3 linked regions of the Homo sapiens genome follow. The protein of the gene in region 3 interacts with the protein of the main gene of each other region in a pairwise test. Each region holds a gene or a part of one and is shown on either strand. Other genes may lie near its edges.

Evidence for each region.
Region 1: the proteins of DBF4 (region 3) and BLMH interact in binary tests that used the Homo sapiens proteins (3 or more experiments, as listed by UniProt).
Region 2: the proteins of DBF4 (region 3) and MCMBP interact in a two-hybrid assay, tested with the Homo sapiens proteins (one study listed by BioGRID).

What each region holds. Positions count from the first base shown.
Region 1 is NC_000017.11:30,281,838-30,288,949, reverse strand, and holds part of BLMH (bleomycin hydrolase), read left to right. Parts: intron 1-1,002; coding exon 1,003-1,144; intron 1,145-2,047; coding exon 2,048-2,136; intron 2,137-3,469; coding exon 3,470-3,562; intron 3,563-7,112. UniProt on the Homo sapiens protein: The normal physiological role of BLM hydrolase is unknown, but it catalyzes the inactivation of the antitumor drug BLM (a glycopeptide) by hydrolyzing the carboxamide bond of its B-aminoalaninamide moiety thus protecting normal and malignant cells from BLM toxicity.
Region 2 is NC_000010.11:119,862,754-119,869,865, reverse strand, and holds part of MCMBP (mini-chromosome maintenance complex-binding protein), read left to right. Parts: intron 1-7,112. UniProt on the Homo sapiens protein: Associated component of the MCM complex that acts as a regulator of DNA replication.
Region 3 is NC_000007.14:87,872,428-87,879,546, reverse strand, and holds the start of DBF4 (protein DBF4 homolog A), read right to left. Parts: upstream 3,055-7,119; 5' UTR 2,815-3,054; coding exon 2,769-2,814; intron 1,495-2,768; coding exon 1,322-1,494; intron 1-1,321. UniProt on the Homo sapiens protein: Regulatory subunit for CDC7 which activates its kinase activity thereby playing a central role in DNA replication and cell proliferation. Required for progression of S phase.

The sequences.
Region 1 (7,112 bases), on a different chromosome or scaffold from region 3:
TGCCACCCGGGCTAGAGGGCTGTGGCACAGTCTCGGCTCACTGTAACCTCTGCCTCCTGGGTTCAAGCCATCCTCTCAACTCAGCCTCCCAAGTAGCTGGAATCACAGGCACATGCCACCATGCCCAGCTAATTTTTGTATTTTTAGTAGAGACAGGGCATTTCACCGTGTTGGTCAGACTGGTCTCGAACTCCTGACCTCAAGTGATCTGCCTGCCTTGGCCTCCCAAAGTGCTGGGATCACAGGTGTGAGCCACCACTCCTGGCCATATTCCATTTCCTAATCTTCAAAATGTATATTACTGACCTGGTTTGGTGGCTCATGCCTGTAATCCCAGCACTTTGGGAGGCTGAGGTGAGAGGATTGCTTGAGCCCAGGAATTTGAGACCAGTCTGGACCTGGCGAAACCCCATCTCTACAAAAAATACAAAAATTAGCCACGCGTGGTGCACACCTGTCCTCCCAGCTACTCAGGAGGCTGAGGTAGGAGGATTGCTTGAGCTCAGGAGGTTGAGGCTGCAGTGAGATTGCACCACTGCACTCCAGCCTAGGCAACAGAGCATGACCCTGTCTAAAAATAAATAAGTAAATAAAATATATATTACATAGGTGTTCATTAAATGTTTTGTTTTAGCATTGGAATGTAAACACTGTACACATATACACAATATATTGGGATACATACACAGGTAAAAGAAGAAACTTCAGATATTCTGATGAAGTCAGATACTGATGTTTATTTACCAATTTTAGTTTAAAAATACTTATTATGGTGCTTGTTTCAGCATCGTAAGTCCCCAAACTGGGGTGATACAGAAAAGATTAGCATGGCCTCTGTACAAGGATGACATGCAAATTCATGAAGGTTTCATGTTTTTAAAAAGAAAAAAAACTATTATGTTGATTCCATGGTAATTCCAAGACTCCCATTCTGTTGATAATGCCAATAAAATTATTGACACTTTTTTCTTTTAATGTTATTTAACTTTCTTTACTCTTTAGGTTGAACGCTGTTATTTCTTCTTGAGTGCTTTTGTGGACACAGCCCAGAGAAAGGAGCCTGAGGATGGGAGGCTGGTGCAGTTTTTGCTTATGAACCCTGCAAATGATGGTGGCCAATGGGATATGCTTGTTAATATTGTTGGTAAAAGTTCTTTCTTTAATGGAACTGAAACTCAGCATGATTAAGTAAGCCTGTAGTTAGGCATGGGCCAATTCTTTGGTGGTTGTGTACAGAGTAGAATTGGTCTCCAAGAAGGATATATAGTTATTTCTAAGGACCTTTAGTTCACATTCTCACCTATAAAGTGCCTTCTTAAATGAGGATTAAGGAGAGAGCTACTGTGAAGGATGGGTTGGAGAAGAAAAGGTAGTATTAAGGAGAACTAATTTTCCATGAAAAAATTGTTTTCTTCTCCATTGATGTAATCAGGAAACACATTAAAACTGTAGCTGTGTTAAAATGTCTTCAAAACATCTTTTGGGGAAATCTCATCATGCTGAGCACTTTACAAAAGTATGATAGATACACTTGAGCTTGACCAAAAGGCTGAGAAGTGACAAAGTATAGTAGATAAAAAGGATAACATAGACAGATAAATATGCACATTAAAAACCTACTTAGGCTGGGTAAGGTGGCTCAGGCATGTAATCCTAGCACTTTGGGAGACCAGGGCAGGAGGATTGCTCAAGCCCAGGAGCTCAGTACCAGCCTGGGTAACATAGTGAGACCCTGTCTCTACAGAAAATAAAACAAATAGCTGCACATGGTATCATGCACCATAGTTGCCGCTACTCAGGAGGTCAAGCCTGGGAGTTCAAGGCTGCAGTGGGCCAGGATCGTGTCACAGCACTCCAGCCTGAGTGACAGAGCAAAACTCTGTCAAAAACAAAAAACAAAAAACAAAAAACCCTGCTTCATAATATGAAGTATAAGATTTTCTGAAGTAAGCCAGCAAAATATCGCCTATTTTTTGAAACAATCACTATTTTTGCCAGGGTTTCTAATTTTTTACCTTCTTTAACACTAGAATTTGTTTTCTTTTAGAAAAATATGGTGTTATCCCTAAGAAATGCTTCCCTGAATCTTATACAACAGAGGCAACCAGAAGGATGAATGATATTCTGAATCACAAGGTACAATATATGAAGCAGGGTGGGATTGAGTTTAGTGTACTTTCCTTCAAACTTATTTTTTAAAAGGGGTTCCTGGGTATCTCTGTATACAGTTTGTGTACAAGATAACTACCAATGTCAATGTCTGTCAAAAGCAATGTAGCTACTTAATAACTTTAAAAATAATTAATATTAGAGGGTTTTTCCTTTTAAAAAACTTCCACTTTTATTTCTGTTGATGTTAATGTTTTCTTAGGGGGATAGTTAGGAAATAAAGTCCCATGTCCAATTAATATTGGCCACAAGCACACAGGGTGCGGTGTCTCTCACTTGGTTCTAGTGGAGGTGGGCTAGGACTGCTTTATGTGCTAGTAAAACCAAAAAGAGCTATTCGCAAGATTCCCTTAAAGAGTGTGCTGTGTTCTGAGACTTCCCCAGACCACATCAATGTGGTTTATCCACCCACTAAAGATTTGTTGTAGTTATTGAACTGCTTTTTATTTGCTTCAGTTATCTTAATGAATCATTGTGTCTTCTCTACATAACCAGTTTTCCCTAGGAGAGTTATAATTCCTACGGGGATGCTGCTTTGCTAGCCAGGCATGGTTTTTGAGAACTGGGAGTTGCCAGAATCTGCTGTCCTAATCCATGAGGCTGAAATTGGATTTTTCATCTCCCTGGGAGAAAGATTACATTTTAAAATCAACTATAGGTGTGTCTCCCCAACATTAGAAGTAGACTATTTTCCACCCTGGAAACGCTGGGGATTCTTATCCAAAGGCTAAAAGATCATTAATAGTACGGCATTTGATTCCATTTGAAGTCAGAGCAACATCCTCTTTAGCACTGTGGTTAAATTTCAGACTCACCTTTATCTTGGTGAAAAAATGAAATGAAAAAATGAAAATTTTATTGGGGGCTGGCATAACCATAGTCATAGTCAGCCGGCAGAGAAGGAAAAATGGACAGCTATTGAAATTCTAAGTAAAAATCTATGAGAGTAACATAGTGGCATAATTATCTTGTCTCCTGCTTTTTCTGAGTGATAGGCATTATGTGATCACATGTTTTCCCCATGCCCAGACACATAAAACACCTTTATGCGATGTTTGCAGAGAAGGAGCAGTTCCGTCTAGTATTTTGGAGGAGTAACTTATGCCTTTTCTCCTTATGGAAAGCATTTTTAGCTATGTGTTTAAGTGGACAAGTTGAAGAAAAACACATTTGCCTTTATGAACTCTGTCATGGGTCTGGCCTGAGTTATACCTCAAAATAGAACTTGCGTTGGTCTATGAGAGTCATTTACAATTGAATTCGGGTAACTGTTGGAGTGCTGAATAAGTTTCTGTCATAGATGAGAGAATTCTGTATACGACTGCGGAACCTGGTACACAGTGGAGCAACCAAAGGAGAAATCTCGGCCACACAGGACGTCATGATGGAGGAGGTAATAACAAAATTTGGATTTTTTTGTGACCCCTCTAAGGAACTCTCAGAATATTCCCATCTGTTAAAGTAATGATTAGGAAGCTTTAGTCATGGCAACGAATGTTTAATTGAATTGAAAATTACTTATTTTACACTGAAAAAACTGAGCTTAAAACTTACTTTGCCTTTTAGTGTAGGACTTGGACTTGGATTTTCTAATTCGTAGTTTAGTGGTCTGTATAATCATTCTTTTATCATTTCATAAATATTAAATACCTTCTATGAGTTTGGCACTGAGGAAACAGATGAGAAAGACATAGTCACTGCTCTTAAAGAGCTCAGTCTCTTGGGAAAAAGAAAACACATCTATAATGATGATAAATCCTATGCTAGATGTGTAAAAACTGATTTGGTGGTCATAGAGGAGGGAGTGACTAGCTCAGTGAGCTGAAGCTTTCATAGGGAAGATAGCTCTTGAAAGAGTAGTCAGAATTTACCAGGTAGATAACAAGACCATTCTAGGCAAAAGGAATTGTATGAACAGTGCCATAAACAAAGATAGAACCTTCAGGGAATCATGTGGCTGAAACATAACTTTTTTCAGTATGATGGGTAGCAAATTAAGCTAGAAAGGCAGAGATGTAAGGGATGTTGGATCGATGCCAGAACATTTGGCTTCTTTCTGTAGAAATAAAGACGGAGCTATTGATGGTTATATTTGTTAATGTATGTAAAAACATTTTAGAAAATGTAAAAAGCACTAAAATATGAGGTGGTAATATTATTTATGATCAAGACAGTTAAGAAACTTTATTATTAATACTATCCATGTCCAGAATGAATATGCATAAAACTGCAATTGGTTTGAGGAAAGAATAAATGTTTCCGTTTGTCAGCCAGTAGGCCCTTTATTAGGCTTCCTTTCAAGACTGTATGGAGTTAAAATGGCCTACTTTTTTTCACTGCGATGGAAAACACTAATGCTTCACTTGTGTTTTCCTTTAAATCTTAGAGATGCAGCATAGTGGAGCAGTGGAGTGTGTAATCTCTGAAGTCAGGCTATCTGAGCTCTAGTCTTCTCATTACTTTATATCCTGGGACAAGTTCCTTAAGCTCTAAAGGCTCAGTTCATATTTAACATGTCTAGCCTAGTGCTTGGCACAATAGCTGTTTCTTAAGTATTTGTTGAGTGGACGAATGCAGAAATTTCATTTACCAAATGCATTTAAATAATCTCATTTTTATCTCTTAAATTCTTACAGAAGAGAGGCATCTTAGTATAGTAGGAAAAAATAGGCTTTGGAGTCAGACATACATGGGTTTAAATTCTGACTCTTTTACTTAACAGTCTGTGATCCTAGGTAAGTTACTTAACCTGTCTGAGATTCAGTCAGGATCTGAAATATTTTCCTTATTGGATTTTTGGGGAATCAAGGATTAAATGTAAGCATGCAAGGCATAGTGCCTGGCACGTAGCAGGAGTTCTGTAAATGTTACTTCTTCCCTTCTTGCTTGGAATGACTGTCTTGCAGAGGCTATATCTGCTACATAATTTGCCTTTATTTAGGGTTAGATTAAGATGGTGGGGGCCAGGCACGGTGGCTCATGCCTGCAGTCTCAGCACTTTGGGAGGCCAAGGTGGGCGGATCATAAGGTCAGGAGATCAAGACCATCCTGACCAACATGGTGAAACCCCGTCTCTACTAAAATACAAATAATTAGCTGGGCGTGGTGGTATGCGCCTGTAGTCCCAGCTACTCGGGAGGCTGAGGCAGGGGAATCACTTGAACCCAGGAGGCAGAGCTTGCAGTGAGCCGAGATTGTGCCACTGTACTCCAGCCTGGTGACAGAGTGAGACTCCGTCTCCAAAAAAAAAAAAAAAAAAAAAGATGGAGGTATAGTAGGAATGAAGGTTCTGCAAACAGTTGTGGAAAAGGGCCCAGATAATACTTGCTGTAGATAATAAGCATCCTTTTGGCTTTTGATGTTTGCTTTAATGATCTTTGAACTAATGATGTGTCTAAGATTGATGTCCTCATCATTGGTAGAGCGTGGTAATTGGCTGGTAAGAATTAGGGCAGATATGTTTCACATATTTTTTTCCTCCCCTACTCCTGCCTCAGAGAAATAGTAGATCCAACTTTACCAAATCCTGAGTATGAATGTTTTATAGGATTATTTACTTAATGATTCTACCTAAACTATTTACTACAGAATTCTGTGTGTAAGGGTTTTTTCCCCCTTAGAGACAGAGTCTTGCTTTGTTGCCCAAGCTGGAGTGCAGAGGCGCAGTCATAGCTTACTGTAACTTTCAACTCCTGGGCTCAAATGCTGCTTCAGCCACCCAAGTAGCTGGGACTACAGGTGCATGCCACCATGCCCAGCTCATTTATTAAAAAAATTGTGTAGAGATTCAGTCTCACTATATTTCCCAGGCCGATCTCCACCACCTGGGCTCAAGCAGTCCTCCCACCTTAGCCTCCCAAAGATTGTGCATATTATAAAGTGTGAGCCGCCATACCTGGCCCTGTGTATAAGGTTTTAAAATTTTTACAATCCCCCAAATGACTTCTTTTCATTGAACCTGACTCTTTGGTAATGAAGAGTCTAGCTGCAGTTTTAAAGCCCCAAATTAGTACCTATGATTTGTGTAACCTTGTAGGCAAGTCAAAATGATGGCTTAATCAACAGCCGTGAAGCTCAGATAGCTTTGAATAAAATGTGTTTATGCTAAAGGCATTCTTACTGAGAAGTGAGACGCAGGCTGCTTGTTGAGATGACAGGCAAGGCAGATCTGTTTTGGAGATGTGTAGTTACCTCTATTGCAATGTTATCTCAGTGTCCATTTTTTTAGCCTGCGGATCCCCTTAAGATTATTAATGTATTCTCAGTTGGGCGCAGTGGCTCATGCCTATAATCCCAGCACTTTGGGAGGTCAAGGCAGATGGATCACTTGAGGCCAGGAGTTCAAGACCAGCCTGGCCAACATGGCAAAACCCCGTCTCTACTAAAATACGAAAAAAACATCTGGGCATAGTGGTGCATGCCTATAATGCCAGCTGCTTGGGCAGCTGAGACACAAGAATCACCGGAACCCTGCAGGTGGTGGAGACCAAAATTGTGCCACTGCAGTCCAGCCTGGGTGACAGAGCAAGGCTCTGTCTCAAAAAAAAAAAAAAAAAAAAAACCTTGTCTGTTAAAAAGCAAAACATAGCCAGGCATGGTGGTAACACTTGTAGTGCCAGCTACTTGGGAGGCTAAGGCAGATCACTTGAGTCCAGAAACCCAGGAGTTCAAGTGCTACCTGGGCAACCTAGTGAGACCTCATTTCTAAAATCAATCGATCAGTCAATCAAAGACCAAAACCAATATTTGTCAGTGCCACAAAAAGGGAAAAGAAGCCTTTATGATTGACTTAGGAAATTCTATAGCAGTGGCTGTCAGCTATTGAAAACAATATATAGGATAGGCCTAACTTGTCCCAGACTCACAAAGTCAGTTTCCCTGGAATAGAACCTAGTTATCTGTATTTTTATTTTAAAGACATCTTCGATTAAAAAATATATTTT
Region 2 (7,112 bases), on a different chromosome or scaffold from region 3:
ACCGCTTTTTAGTATGTGATGCTAGTTTTTTTGGATAACCAGCTACTCACTGACTCTCTTTCAGGATCTGAATTTGGTCACTGTATCTTATCCGTTCTAGGGGTTTTGTTTTTGTTTTTGCTTTTTTTGTTTTTGAGATGGAGTTTCGTTCTTGTCACCCAGGCTGGAGTGCAACAGTGTGATCTCGGCTCACTGCAACCTCCTCCTCCCAGGTTCAAGCAATTCTGCCTCAGCCTCTGGAGTAGCTGGGATTACAAGTGCCTGCCACCATGCCCAGCTAATTTTTTTTTTTTTGAGACTGAGTCTTGCTCTGTCACTCAGGCTAGGGCGCAGTGTTACAATCTTGGCTCACTGCAGCCTCTGCCTCTTGGGTTCAAGTGATTCTCCTGCCTCAGCCCCCTGAGTAGCTGGGATTACAGGTGCATGCCACCATGCCCAGCTAATTTTTGTATTTTTAGTAAAGACAGGGTTTCACCATGTTGGCCAGGCTGGTCTTGAACTCCTGACCTAGTGATCCGCCCACCTTGGCCTCCCAAAGTGCTGGGATTGTAGGCGTGAGCCACCACACCGAGCCGCTAATTTTTGTATTTTTAGTAGAGACAGGATTTCACCATGTTAGCAAGGCTGGTCTCGAACAGGTGATCTGCCTGCCTCGGCCTCTCAAAGTGCTGGGATTATAGGCGTGAGCCACCGCGCCCGACCCAGACCCTCATCTCCAATGCTACTGTCAAAATTAAAGCCATCGTAGTCTCTTTCCTGGACGCTGGAACAGCCCTCTAACTGGTTTCTTGCCTCCAGTCTTGCTTCTCTTCCACCTGCCATACTGGAACCAAGTCCTTCAGTGACTTCTTGTTACCCTTACTATCTGATCCAGGACTTTTAAAGTGGTTTATGAGGCCCTTGTTGGCTCCACCCTTGCCTTGCTCTGAGACTTTATCACTGCGTACCCCCTCCTCATACTCCATCCCAGCCGCACTGAACCTTTTTTCAGTTCTTTAATTTTGAACCTGTGTCTAGGCCTTTTTGCATCTGCTGATTTCTTGTGCCTGATTCCCCCTCCCATCCCATGTCCACTTTTCTGGCTAAGTCTTACTTTTCCTTTGGGAACTTAAGTTAGGTACCAAAGTAGGGTACCCCTGCTCCATGTTACTGCAGGATCCTATTATATATGTCTTTGAAAAATAGTGTGTAAAGTGCATTGTTGAAATTCCTTGTTTCGGAAGTTCCTTTGCTGGATTTTGACCCCGCGAATTCAGGGCCCCTGTATCTGCATTATTCACCACTGTATCCTAATTTCTTAGAATTTGCCTTGTACATTGAAAGTGCTCAGTGGACACTTGTTGAACAAAAGCAGTGAAAAGACTGATTAATCAGAAATGTTGTTAATTGAAATGGCTAGTGAGATCACAAATCTCAAAATTTTTCTTTTCTTTTTTTCTGGAGTCAGTGTCTTGCTCTGTTGCCCAGGGTGGAGTGCAGTGGCGTGATCTCGGCTCACTGCAACCTCCGCCTTCTGGGTTCAAGCCATTCTCATGCCTCAGCCTCTCGAGTAGCTGGGATTAAAAGTGTGCACCACCATGCCTGGCTAATTTTTCTATTTTTAATAGAGACAGGGTTTTGCCATGTTGGCCAGGCTGGTCTTGAACTCCTGGCCTCAAGTGATCTGCCCCCACTTGGCCTCCCAGAGTGCTGAGATCTCAGGTGTGAGCTGCTGCGCCCAGCCTCTTTAGCTGTTTTCCCTTCAACTATTGGTTAGACCAAGATCATTATTCTCGTTATATTTAAGCTTCTTTGGTTGTATCTAACAGAACTAGACTAGCTCATGCAAAAAAGAGCAGGGTTGGGTGAAGAGGGGCAGAGCAGACTATTTTATCACTAGCATTTTAGAGAATTTAAAGCAATAATAAAATGAACTAAAAGTTAGTTGGTCTGCTTTTTATTATCACCATGAATCTAAACAGACAATCTGTGCCCTTATTGTCTGTACCCAGCTTGGACCTCTTCTACCACTCTGTCCTTGGTAGGCCACTGAAAAAAGTTAATTTATATTAAGGCTATAAAACCCAAGAACAGGGGAAGTGGTTGGGTATTCGAAGAGACTGAGTGGAATCAGGAACTGGAAAGCTAGCAGGAATCCAAGCAACTCAGTATTTCTTCTCTTGGGATACATTAATCTCTGCACACTTTCTCTTTCTCTACTCCATGTCTCCCAAATTTACTTGTTCTCGGTTCCAACCCACGCTAGCTAGCATCTTTATTTTCAGGCATAGAAAATCTGATTGGCACAACATGGAGTCAGGAATCCATTCACTCAGGGATCAGTCATCTGTGGCCATGGCACAGAGTTAGGTAGGACAATCGTGACTGTTATCCACACCTCAACATTGGGGGCGTTCTCAAAGAAGAAGAATAGCTCCGGCAGCCATGGCAGATGGCATACGTAGGAGTTTTTAAGTTATAATAACTTACACATGGTTTTAAAAAAAATCAACATGATGGTATGAACTGAGTGAAAGTACGTGCTCCCTCCATTGAAGTAACCACTTTTTTTTTTTTTTTTTTTTTTTTTTTTTGAGATGGAGTCTCGCTCTGTCGCCCAGGCTGGAGGGCAGTGGTGCGATTTCGGCTCACTGCAACCTCTCCCTCCCAGGTTCAAGCGATTCTCATGCCTCAGCCTCTTGAGTAGCTGGGACTACAGGCGACCACCACCACACCTGGCTAATTTTTGCATTTTTAGTAGAGTCGGGGCTTCACCGTGTTGGCCAGGATGGTCTCGACCTCCTCTGCCCTCGTGATCCACCACCCTCGGCCTCCCAAAGTGCTGGGATTAGAGGCATGAGCCACCGTGCCCTGCCTGAAGTAACCGCTTTTAACTGTTTTTGCTTTTAGAGGTTTTTTTCTTTGAGACAGAGTCTCGCTCTGTCACCCAGGCTAGAGTGCAGTGGCACGATCTCTGCTCACTGCAACCTCTACCTCCCAGGTTCAAGCAGTTCTACTGCCTCAGCCTCCCGAGTAGTTGGGACTACAGGCGCCTGCCACCACACCCAGCTAACTTTTTGTATTTTCGTAGAGATGGTGTTTCACTATGTTGCTCAGGCTGGTCCAAAAAAATTTTTTTTCTTTGAAATAAAATTCACATAACAAAATTTAACATTTTAAAATGTACAATTGAATTTTTTTTACTGTATTCATAATGATGTTGTGCAACCATCACCACCACTATCTTTTTCTCTTTTTTTTGAGACGGAGTCTCACTCTGTTGCCCAGGCTGGAGTGCAGTGGTGCAAACTTGGCTCACTGCAACCTCTGCTTACCGGGTTCAAGCGATTCTCTTGCCTCAGCCTCCCAAGTAGCTGGGATCACAAGCATGCACCACCATTCCTGGCTAATTTTTGTATTTTTAGTAGAGACGGAGTTTTACCATGTTGGTCAGGCTGCTCTTGAACTCCTGATCTCAGGTGATCCACACGCCTCGGCCTCCCAAAGTGTTGGGATTACAGGCATGAGCCACCACGCCCGGCCACCCCTATCATTTTCATCACTCCAAAAAGAAACCCCATACCTTTAGTAGTCTCTCCCATTTCTTCTGTCTTCCATCTCTGGCAACAACTATACTTCTGCCCATGGATTTACCTATTCTGGACGTTTCGTGTAGGTGGAATTATACAACATGTGGCCTTTGAGGTCTGGCTTCTTTTCATTTACCATGATATTTTCATGGTTCATCCATGTCATAGTATGCATCAGTACTGCATTCCTTTTTTTTTTTTTTTTAAGAGATAGAGCCTGGCTCTGTCGTCCAGGCTGGAATGCTGTGTGGCAAGATCATGGTTCACCGCAGCCTTGAACTTCCAGTCTCAAGTGATCCTGCAGCCTCAGCTTCCTGAGTAGCTGGGACTACAGGCATGTATTACCTGTATTACCACACCCAGCTAATTTTTAAATCATTTTTTGTAGATTTGGGGTCTCACTATGTTGCCCAGGCTACACTCAAACTCCTGGCCTCAAGTGACCCTCCCGCCTCGGCCTCCCAAAGTGCTGGGATTACAGATGTGAGCCACTGTACCCAGTCTGCATTCCTTTTTATGGCTGAAAATAACATTCCATTGTATGTCTATACTGCATTTTGTTTATCCATATATTTGCTGATGGACACTTAGGTTATTTCCTGGCTGTTATAAATACTGCTACTATAAACATTCATGTACAAGTTTTTGTGTGAATGTAAGCTTTTTGGTTCTTTCCCAGATATACCTAGGGATGGAATTGCAAGGTCATATGATAATTTTATATTTAACTTTTTGAGGAATTGCCAAACTTTTCCACAGTGGCTGCACCATTTTACTTCCCAGGTTCAAGCAATTCTCCTGCCTCAGCCTCCCAAGTAGCTGGGATTACAGGTACCACCAGCAAGCCCAGCTAACTTTTGTATTTTTAGTAGAGATGAGGTTTCACCATGTTGGCCAGGCTGGTCTCAAACTACTGATCTCAGGTAATCTGCCTGCCTTGGCCTCCCTAAGTGCTGGGATTACGGGCATAAGCCACTACGCCTGGCCTAAAATGTTTTTAAGAAAGGTTGTGTGAGAAGAGAACAAGAGGCACATTATATAATGTTAAAACAGTCAGTTCACCAAGAAGACCTAACTATATATGCACCAAGCAACAGAGCTTCAAAATGTATGATGCAAAAACCAGCAGAAATAAAAGAAGAAATAGGCAAATCTGCAATTGTAGTTAGATATTTTACTACTCCTCTCTCAGTACTTGACAGAATAGTGGGTAGAAAATCAAAAAGAATACTGAACAACACAAAACTACACAACACTGTCAACCAAGTAGATCTAATTGACATTTGTTTACCTAATGACAGCAGAATACACATTCTTTTCAAGTGCACATGTAAATTCACCAAGATAAACCACATTCTGGGTCATAAACCAAATAGTAAACTTTATATATAAGAAGAACACTTCTAAACAATCCATGGATTAAAAACTCTCAAAGGAAAGCTTTGAATATTGTGAACTAAACCAAAATGAAAACTCAACATACCAAAATTTGTGGGATACAGCCAAAGACATGCTTAGATGCATTAGCTGCCTTAATTAGAAGAGAAGGTCTCAAGTGAATAATTTAAGCTTCCACCTATGAAACTAGAAATGAAGAGCAAAATAAACCCAAATTAAACAGAAGAAAGAAATAATAGAGAACAAAAATCCATGAAATAGAAAACAGAAAAAAAAGAAAAAATCAGTGAAACTCAAAGCTCTTTAAAAAAAAAATCAATAAAATTGTAAACCTCTAGCCATACTGGCAAAGGAAAAAAAAAAAGGAAAACAAATTACCAATAGTAGAAAAGAAAAAAAGGAAGACAAATTACCAATATTAGAAAAGAAAGAGGAGATAACCACCGTAGACTGTACAGGCATGAAAAGGATAATACAAACAGCTCTACAGATAGAAATTCATCAACTTAGATGAAATGGACCAGTTCCTCAAAAACCACTGTATTAGCTTTCTATTTCTCCTGTAATAAATTACAAATGTAGTGACTTTAAAACAAAAGGTTTTTATTTACAGTCCTGGAGACAGAAGTCTGACATGGGTCTTACTGGGATAAAATCAAATTGTTGACAGGACTTGCATTCCATTGTGGAGGCTTTAGGAGAGAATCTGTTCCTTTTCTTTTCCTGCATCTAGAGTCTGCCCACATTTCTTGGCTTGTGGCCCCCTTCCGTTTTCAAAGACAACAAGTCGAGTTGTTCTCACATCTTACTCTAACTTCCTCTTTTGCCACATCCTTCCACATTTAAGGACCGTTGTGATTACATTGAACCCACCCAGATTGTTTTTTTTTTTAAGTTCAACTGATTATTAACCTTAATTCCATCTGCTACCTTAATTCCTATGTAACATATCTTTACAAGTTCTGGGGATTAGAACATCAGTATCTTGGTTGGGTGGGAGGGGGTCATTATTCTGCTGATCACAGCCACAAACTATCCAAACTCACCCAAGTAGAATAATATTTCACCTTTTACGTCTGGCTTATCTCACTTAGCATAATGTTTTCAAGGTTTATTCCTGTGTCTTCGTTGCTTTTTTTTTTTTTTTTTTTTTTTTTTTTTTTTTTTTTTGAGTCTGAGCCTCACTCTGTCTCCCAGGCTGGAGTGCAGTGGTGCGATCTCAGCTCACTGAAACCTCCGCCTCCTGGGTTCAAGCAATTCTCCTGTCTCACCCTCCCGAGTAGCTGGGATTACAGGCGTGTGCCACCACGCCCGGCTAATTTTTGTATTTTTAGTAGAGACGGGGGTTTGCCATGTTGGCCAGGCTGGTCTTGAACTCCTGACAGGTGATCCGCCCGCCTCGGCCTCCCAAAGTGCTGGGATTACAGGCGTGAGCCACCCCGCCTGGCCCTCGCTGCATTTTAATAAAGATACAAAAGCTAATTCAAATGGAAAAAGGATATTCTTTTCATCAAAGACATGAACAATTTAACATTTACATGGAAAAATAAAATCCTCAACCTTTACCTCATATTTTATATAAAATTAACTCAAAATGGATCATACATCTGAGTATAAAACCTGAAACTATAAAACTTTTAGAAGAAAACAGATCTTTGTGACCTGGGGTTTGGCAATGAGTTCTTAAGACATGACACCGAAGGCACAGTGCGTAAAACAAAAATTTGATAAATTGGGCTTCATCAAAATTAAAAACCTTTGTTCTGTAAAAAAAAATTCTATTAGGAGCATGAAAAGACAAGCTATACACTGGGAGAATATATTTGAAAATCCGGTATCAGAAAAAGAACTTGAATCCAGAATATATAAGAAAACACAGCAGTAATTTAAAAACTCAATTTTAAAAGGGGCAAAAGATTTAAGTAGGCTTAAATAGACATTTCACCAGATAGGATACAAGGATGGCAAATATCCCCCTGAGAAGAGTTCAGCATTGTTAGCCATTAGGGAAATGCAAATTTAAGCCATGATATTGCATATTAGAACAGCTAAAATTTAAAAATACATAGTGATAGTACTAAGTACTGGCAAGGATGGGAACAGCTGGATCTCTTAGCAAAATGGTGCAGCCACTCTGGAAGACAG
Region 3 (7,119 bases):
TTCTAAGATGAAGGGGTATTTTTTACTCAATGTCTAAGGTCCTTAACACATTAAGATACTCTTAATAGGTGTATAGTCAATAGGGTGGCAGGCCTAGAAAACATGACCTTTAAGAATGCTGTCATATGATCATTACCATAAATACAACTATTACAAGCATGTGACAGTGTTTTAGTTTAACAAAATGAATAGTAAAAAAGTAGAATAACTTTTCAGAGATAAGTAAATAAAATATATTAACAGTTCCAGGAAACCTGTTAGCACATGTTCTTCTGATAAGTTTCTAGTCTGGGAATCGGCTGGGCCTGGAGGGCTCATGCTTGCAATCCCAGCGCTTTAGAAGGCTGAGGTGGGCAAATCACCTGAGGTTAGAAGTTTGAGACCAGCCTGGGCAACACGGTGAAACCCTGACTCTACTAAAAATACAAAAATTACCCAGGAGTGGTGGCACATGCCTGTAATCGTAGCTACTCAGGAGACAGAGGCTGAGGCACAAGAATCACTTGAACCTGAGAGGAGGAGGTTGCAGTGAGCTGAGATCGCACCACTGCACTCCAACCTAGGCCATATAGAATGAGACTCCGTCTCAAAATAAAAATAAAAATAAATTGAAAAGTTACTAGTCTGGGAATGAAAGGATCAGTTTAGACATTCAAAGACGCAGACCTTCAGAAAGTCAAAGTCCAGCATGAACCTTTTAAACAGAAAAAAATCTTAATTACCTCATTTGCCAAAATTCAGCCAATATCAACCTTAATCCTATTAAGGTCCTAGAATTTTGCCTGAGTTTTCTAATTTCCCAATCATCTAATCAGTGTATAAGGTAGGAAAGAAGGTATTCCAGATTCTTAATGCAAATTTCTTTTCCTTTAATAACATTCATTCTGTTGAAACAACATCTGTATCACTCAGGAACAATTTTAACTGTGGTTTGCATGGCTGTTCTGTAGTAACATTCTTAACTGTTACACTAGTCCAGACAAACTTATGTAGCTCCCCAAGATTCATAATCAAGAAATTGCTGTTATCTGGAGGACATTCCAACATTACAGTAAGCAGTCAATGAGCAGTTCCACTAGGACAGGGGAGTCTTACACTCTAAGAACTTTACACTAGACTGCTAATCAGAGAAACCTGAAAGGTCTGTCAGTCCACAAAAGGTTAAAACAAATGGTTTTTTGTTAACGATAAACAGCTGATAAAAATGTTAAGCTTGGTGCTAATAGAAGCGTTTTCCAAAATGAAAAATTTAAATGATTACACAGTAGAAAGTACTAGTTACAAATTTTTCCTTCTATGCCAGTGTACGGTTTTCACTTACCCCTCCCAGATCCTTAATGTCCTTTTGAAGTTTTTCAGATATGGTGACAGAAGGTAAGTCAAGGTAAAATACTTTTCCCCAAAGTGGCTTACATTTGGATTTTTCTGGCCTGTTATCAGTTTTCAGAGATTTCAGAGATGGTCTGTTTTTTTCATTTTTGACTTGGATTCCACCTATTAAAGATGTTTAGAATCAGATGTTTTACACAGACACTTTTACTATTTTTAAAATATTTCATTATACAATATTACAGAATAAAAATCCTTACAACCCTACCAGTTTAAGTTATTAGCATTGAAATGTATTTCTTTGTAGTACTACTTAGGATAGAGGCAAAATGCCCTATATACTTTCACAGACCGCATATTGTAAAATAATAGTTGACTCAGCAAGAAATATTCGTGTGTTTATTCCTGAGGCACGGAACTATATAAAACTCTTTTGAAAGATTTTCTTTTTTTAGGATGTAAACTCCATGGGGATATTTAATACTCAACTATTTATTGAGCATCTGCCATTCTGCTGAACATTCAAAACTGGTGTTTAAACTTCATTTAGCGATGAAAGAATCCTCTGTTACGCAGAATAACCTAGTCCTCAAGGGTTTCAGACTGCTCAAGTTTTAGTTTCATATAAAGTTTGTCTGCATATTAACAACTAAACGGTCCATTTCACATACAATTTGTCTACGTATTAAGAACTTAACGGTCCATTACGAAGAACTAAACCTTTCATTATTTTCATTAGAAACAGATCTGAGATCCAAGCAACTGCTTTAAAAATTAATTTTTCAAACGCAATCTGTTCTTAAATTGGTAGTTACTACACACACACAAACACCTGTACAAAAAACTTAGGTGCTGGAATGTTTCACCAAATAAAGTGACTGAAAATGGAAATTTGCTTTTGTTTCCCTGTTTGTAATGTTGAAACCAGCAATGGGGTGTTTGAAATACAATGCTTTCCCCCAACTTATGAGGAAAGGAAAATAAACTTTCAAGGGTAAGACCAAAAATCCACCCACAATCACTCAATCTAATCCTGAAGCGAAAAGCCACGAGCGCGTCTGACTTTAAATTGAGGATGCAGTCCGTCGCCTCCAAGGGCCCGGGCGGAGGCTTAGCATATGCGAGAGCCCGGGAGCAGACAGCGCCGCAGTCCCGGCGAGGTCCCGGATCTGCACATTGTTTGCTAGTTTTCAACCGAAGGCACGACCGGGAATCAATCTGGGACCGCCGCTGTAAACGGCAGAGCGCTCGAGGGGCCGGGTCAGGATCCGTTCCTTCTTAGGCAAAACACTGAACGGGGGCTCCTTCCTTCAGACCCCAGAGGCCGGTCAGAAGAAAAGAAGCTGAGGACCCGGCGGGAGAAGTCTGAAGAATCAATGGTGGAACCACGAGGGGAGGAAAGGATTAAAGGGACTGCAGGCGGAGGAGGGGCTTCTTACCCTGGAAATGTCCTTTACTGTGGATCCTCATGGCTCCGGAGTTCATGGCAGTCGCCCGGCACCTACATGCTGGGTCCGGAGAAAGTGTCGCACCGGGCAGCCGCGAAAGCACGGCTTCCCCCGGCCTGTTGACAGGACGGCCGCCTCTCTCCTTCCGCCAGCTACGGCCTCTACGCAGTAGAGGTACCGCGTCTGCAGGTCGGGTTTCCGGGGCCGGATCCGGCTCCAAGGCGCGGAGGAGGAAGGCGCAAAGCACAAACGAGTGGGCTGCGGCGGTTGAAGATTTGAAAACGCGTCACGCGGCCGCGGCGCCGATACGCGCGCCCCGCCCCGTCTCACGCCACGCGCCGTGCCCCGCCTCGCGCTCGCCCCTCGTGCCTGCCTTCTCGCGCTGCGCGCCCCGCCCCCTCACGCCGCCGTCCTTCTCGCGCCTCGCTCTGGCCCTGCAGGTTGTGTTTCCGCCTCTACCCCGCCTCCATTCCGTTGCTCTCTCAGTCTCAGACCCGGGCTCTCGGTCCGCCGCTTCAGGTCTTGGCGCAGCCTCAGAGAGTTGGCGCGGCTCTGTGTTGACCAAACCTAGTGGATGCAGTTAGCGCCGGAGCCCGGCCCCGCCCGTCACCAGGGTTATTCCCGCCTTCTAGGTTTGCCAGGACTGCCGGCCCTGCAGCTGCCTTCTGCCCCAGGTATGCTAATTTTCCACTGGTCGGACGTCTGGGAAGCTGAAGGCGAGGGGCTTTGGCTGAGTCCGGACTCAGCTCTGGCCGGGCCCGGGGCCGGGGCCGGAACCGGAGCCGGACAGCGGCGGCAGCCGCAGCCCCTGCTCAGCGCGCCCTGGGTCGCACAGCAAGCGGGGTTTTCCCGCGGTCACTGCCGACCCCACCGGCTGAGGACAGCTGCAGAGGGACGTGCGGGAGTGAGGGCGGCCCCGGGGGGCGTCTGAGGGAGGGTCTGGCCAGGCGGCCCCGGCCTTGACGGCAGCGCCACCGCAGAACGCCTCCAGGTCACTTTGTGTCCTTGGGTAGTTGGCTATTTGCGCTGTCCTGTTGACTTTTATTGTATTCAGACCTGTTTTCTTTTAGTTGAGTGTAAGTTTATTTCAACAATGAAGGAGTGGAAAGTAACATCTCATTTTTTTTTCCTGTAAAACAGAGATTAAAGATCAAATTAAAATGCTTGTGAATATATTTTAATTTTATAAGTTGGAACATGCCTCTCCAAAAAAAAAAAAAAATCTGTTTCTTCAGGAGGAAGAGGATATTTTGAACTATTTTGCATTCCTCTACTCCAGGCCATAATAGGCACTCCTGTAGTGGTTGATTTTTTTACCTGGTAGCTCAAGGAAGTCAGAGTATCAGCGTTACGGTTTTGCAGGTAGGTACCTTAAAGAATAGACAAGGGTGGGTTGTGACAAGATTAGCTGGAGAACGCAGAGAACAGGTTTGCTAAGGGAAATGAGAGTTTGGTTTTAGACAGGTTTATGTTGAAGGGCCTGGGGCGACAGTCATGGAACTATGCTTATTAGACAGTTAAAGATGTTTATGACTCGAGAGAAATGTCTAGCAGAAGTGGACATGGGAAGAGGAAATAGAGATTGATTTGATATCTCTCCAATAAAATATTTCTGCATCAAGGTCTATTGATGTCAATCATGGGGCAATTCATTAGAGGTTAACAGATCTTGAGTGGTGGAAGGAAGTGTAGTTTGAACAAACATATTCAATATTGTAATTTCTATGGGAAAAAACTTATTTTCAAAATATAAGCTACAGAGAGCACAAAATGTTTATATTTACAGAAAGATTTAAAAAGTTGGGAAGCACTAATATAGAATGTAGTTAAAGCTTTGGGAGGAAATGAAATTGCCAAGGAGAGCATGTGAAATAAGAGAATTGATTATAAGCGTCGTTGATGAAATAGTGAAAGAGATGGAGAAAATGCCACAGAATTGGGAAGAGACTGCAAACATTGGAATCATATGGGCTTCACTAACTACTTGGCCTCTGGGTAATTTTGAGCCCCAATTTTAATCTATTAAAAGGGGGTAGTACTTCTCAGGGATGTTGTGAAGATTAAATGAACATTTTTGAATGCTTAGTACAGTGCCTGGCACAGAGTAGAGCTCCTTAAGAGCTCCATAATTACTATCATTCTAGTGAACACTGCACCAGTTCCTTCATCCCCAGGACAGATAAGGTTAAGACTTGAAAAATAAGTATTTGATTTTGGCGTTTCAGGTATCCTTGGTTTCCTTAAGGGTAATTTGAGTAGGTGGCAGAGATAAGTACAGTACTAGATAAAAATTATAATCTTGAAGTTCAGACAGGTTGAGTGTACTCTTTCAAAAAAATTTGTTATTGTAGGAAAGTATAATGAAGGGAAGACTGGATCTTTGGAAGGTTTAGAGGATGTGGGAAAGATTTTTAAGCATGCTTCTATTGAGGAACTTTTTTTTAAAAAAGGAAGTCCCATTTTATGGTCTTGTGAAAGATGAATTGTGTGTCTTATTTGCCGTGAAGAGGAAGGACAGTAACATAGTTGCACCCTATGCGGTTAGACTCACCCTCGACTGCACTGAAGATGGTAATTCCAAGCAATAAATAAGCAGGAAGTCCGCTTTATGCAATAGTTAGTAATTTTCTAATCTATTATCCAAGGTTAGTTTTTAAAATATTACTGGAACCTAAATCTGTTAGTAGCCACAGAAAGGATATGGCTGTAGTCAGTAAGGATAGAAACCTCCTTTTTATTGTCCAGTAATCAGGTCTGTTGGTAAGAGGGTAGGGTTTGTCTTAAAGTAGATCTTGAAAATATGCTTGAAAACATTTCTTCAGAGGAAGGGTAGACATTTAAGAAGAAGTGAATGGGGGCAGGGTTATTTATGGTGAGAAACTTTGTTCAAGAGTTATATTAGGCAAAATTGGAGAACATTGAGCAGAATCATGATCTAATTAAATGAATATGTGGCTGTGAATCAAGAGAAATGAATTTTATTCATTGCTGGCCCTGTCCCTAACTAGTTTTGTGACCATGGGCAAATGTTAACCTTTCTGGCTGGGCACGGTGGCTCAAGCCTATAATCCCAGCACTTTGGGAGGCCGAGGTGGCGGATCACGAGGTCAGAAGTTGGAGACCAGCCTGGCCAACATGGTGAAACTCTGGCTGTACTAACAATACAAAAATTAGCTGGGCATGGTGGTCCCCGCCTGTAACCCCAGCTACTCAGGAGGCTGAGGCAGGAGAATCACTTGAACCCAGAAGGCGGAGGTTGCAGTGAGCGGAAATTGCGCCACTGCACTCCAGCGTGGGCAACAGAGCGAGACTCCCTCTCAAAAAAAAAAAAAAAAAAAAAGTTAACCTTTCTATGCTAGAATTTACTTATCTATAAATGAAGATAATATTGTTCAGTCTACTCCACAACTTTTTGTGATTATCAGAGACCTAATCTGATCTTTCAGATTACCTCACACATACCCAAATATAAATTTTTTGTTCTAGAATCTAGACAAATTAATTTTGTAGTACTTATCACTTTTTTTTTCTTTCTTTTGCCTAAGCCTCTTCACCTGGCTCAGCAATTATTTTTTCCTGTCCATAGCAAACCTAGCTTAGATTCATCCTTTATCTCCTGCTCATTTGGGTATAATCATTCCTGTTTGATTCATTTGCCAACTATTGATATGTCGTCTTCTGAAATGTGTTCTGATCTATTTTTATTAATTTTCACATTTCATAGTCTCACTATCCTGGTGAATTGGAGGGCTTAAGGTTATATGTAAGGTTAAATTCTTAGTTTTGCAGGCTAAGTGCATGAAAGGATAGGATTGGTTAGTGGCTGTGGAACTGTAGTTAATGTCTCAGGTGACTGTGGGCTGGGAAACCAGGGTAAATTCAGCATTATCAGGCCCTTGAAGACATCCTAAGTGTGTTCACTTTAAATTACAGGCGCCTGCCACCATGCCCAGCTAATTTTTGTATTTTTAGTAGAGACAGGGTTTCACTGTGTTGGCCAGGCTGGTCTTGAACTCCTGACCTCAGATGATCCGCCAGCCTCGACCTCCCAAAGTGCTAGGATTACAAGCGTGAGCCACTGTGCCCAGCCTGCATTTAATTTGTTTATCTTGCTTTATTGTACTGGCTAAATTCTTCAGTACTTTGTTGAATAGAAATGATGAGAGTAGTAAATGGTTCTTATCAAACCGAGGAATTTCCCTTTCATTGAAAAGGATTGAAAGGCTTGCTCAAGCCTTTCAGTCATGGTGGGTGTGGGATGTTGTCAAAGGTTTTCTTCTTCCTCTATCATCTGACTGGACGTTTATTTATTTTTTATTCTTTTGCCTCAAGGGACCAGCTT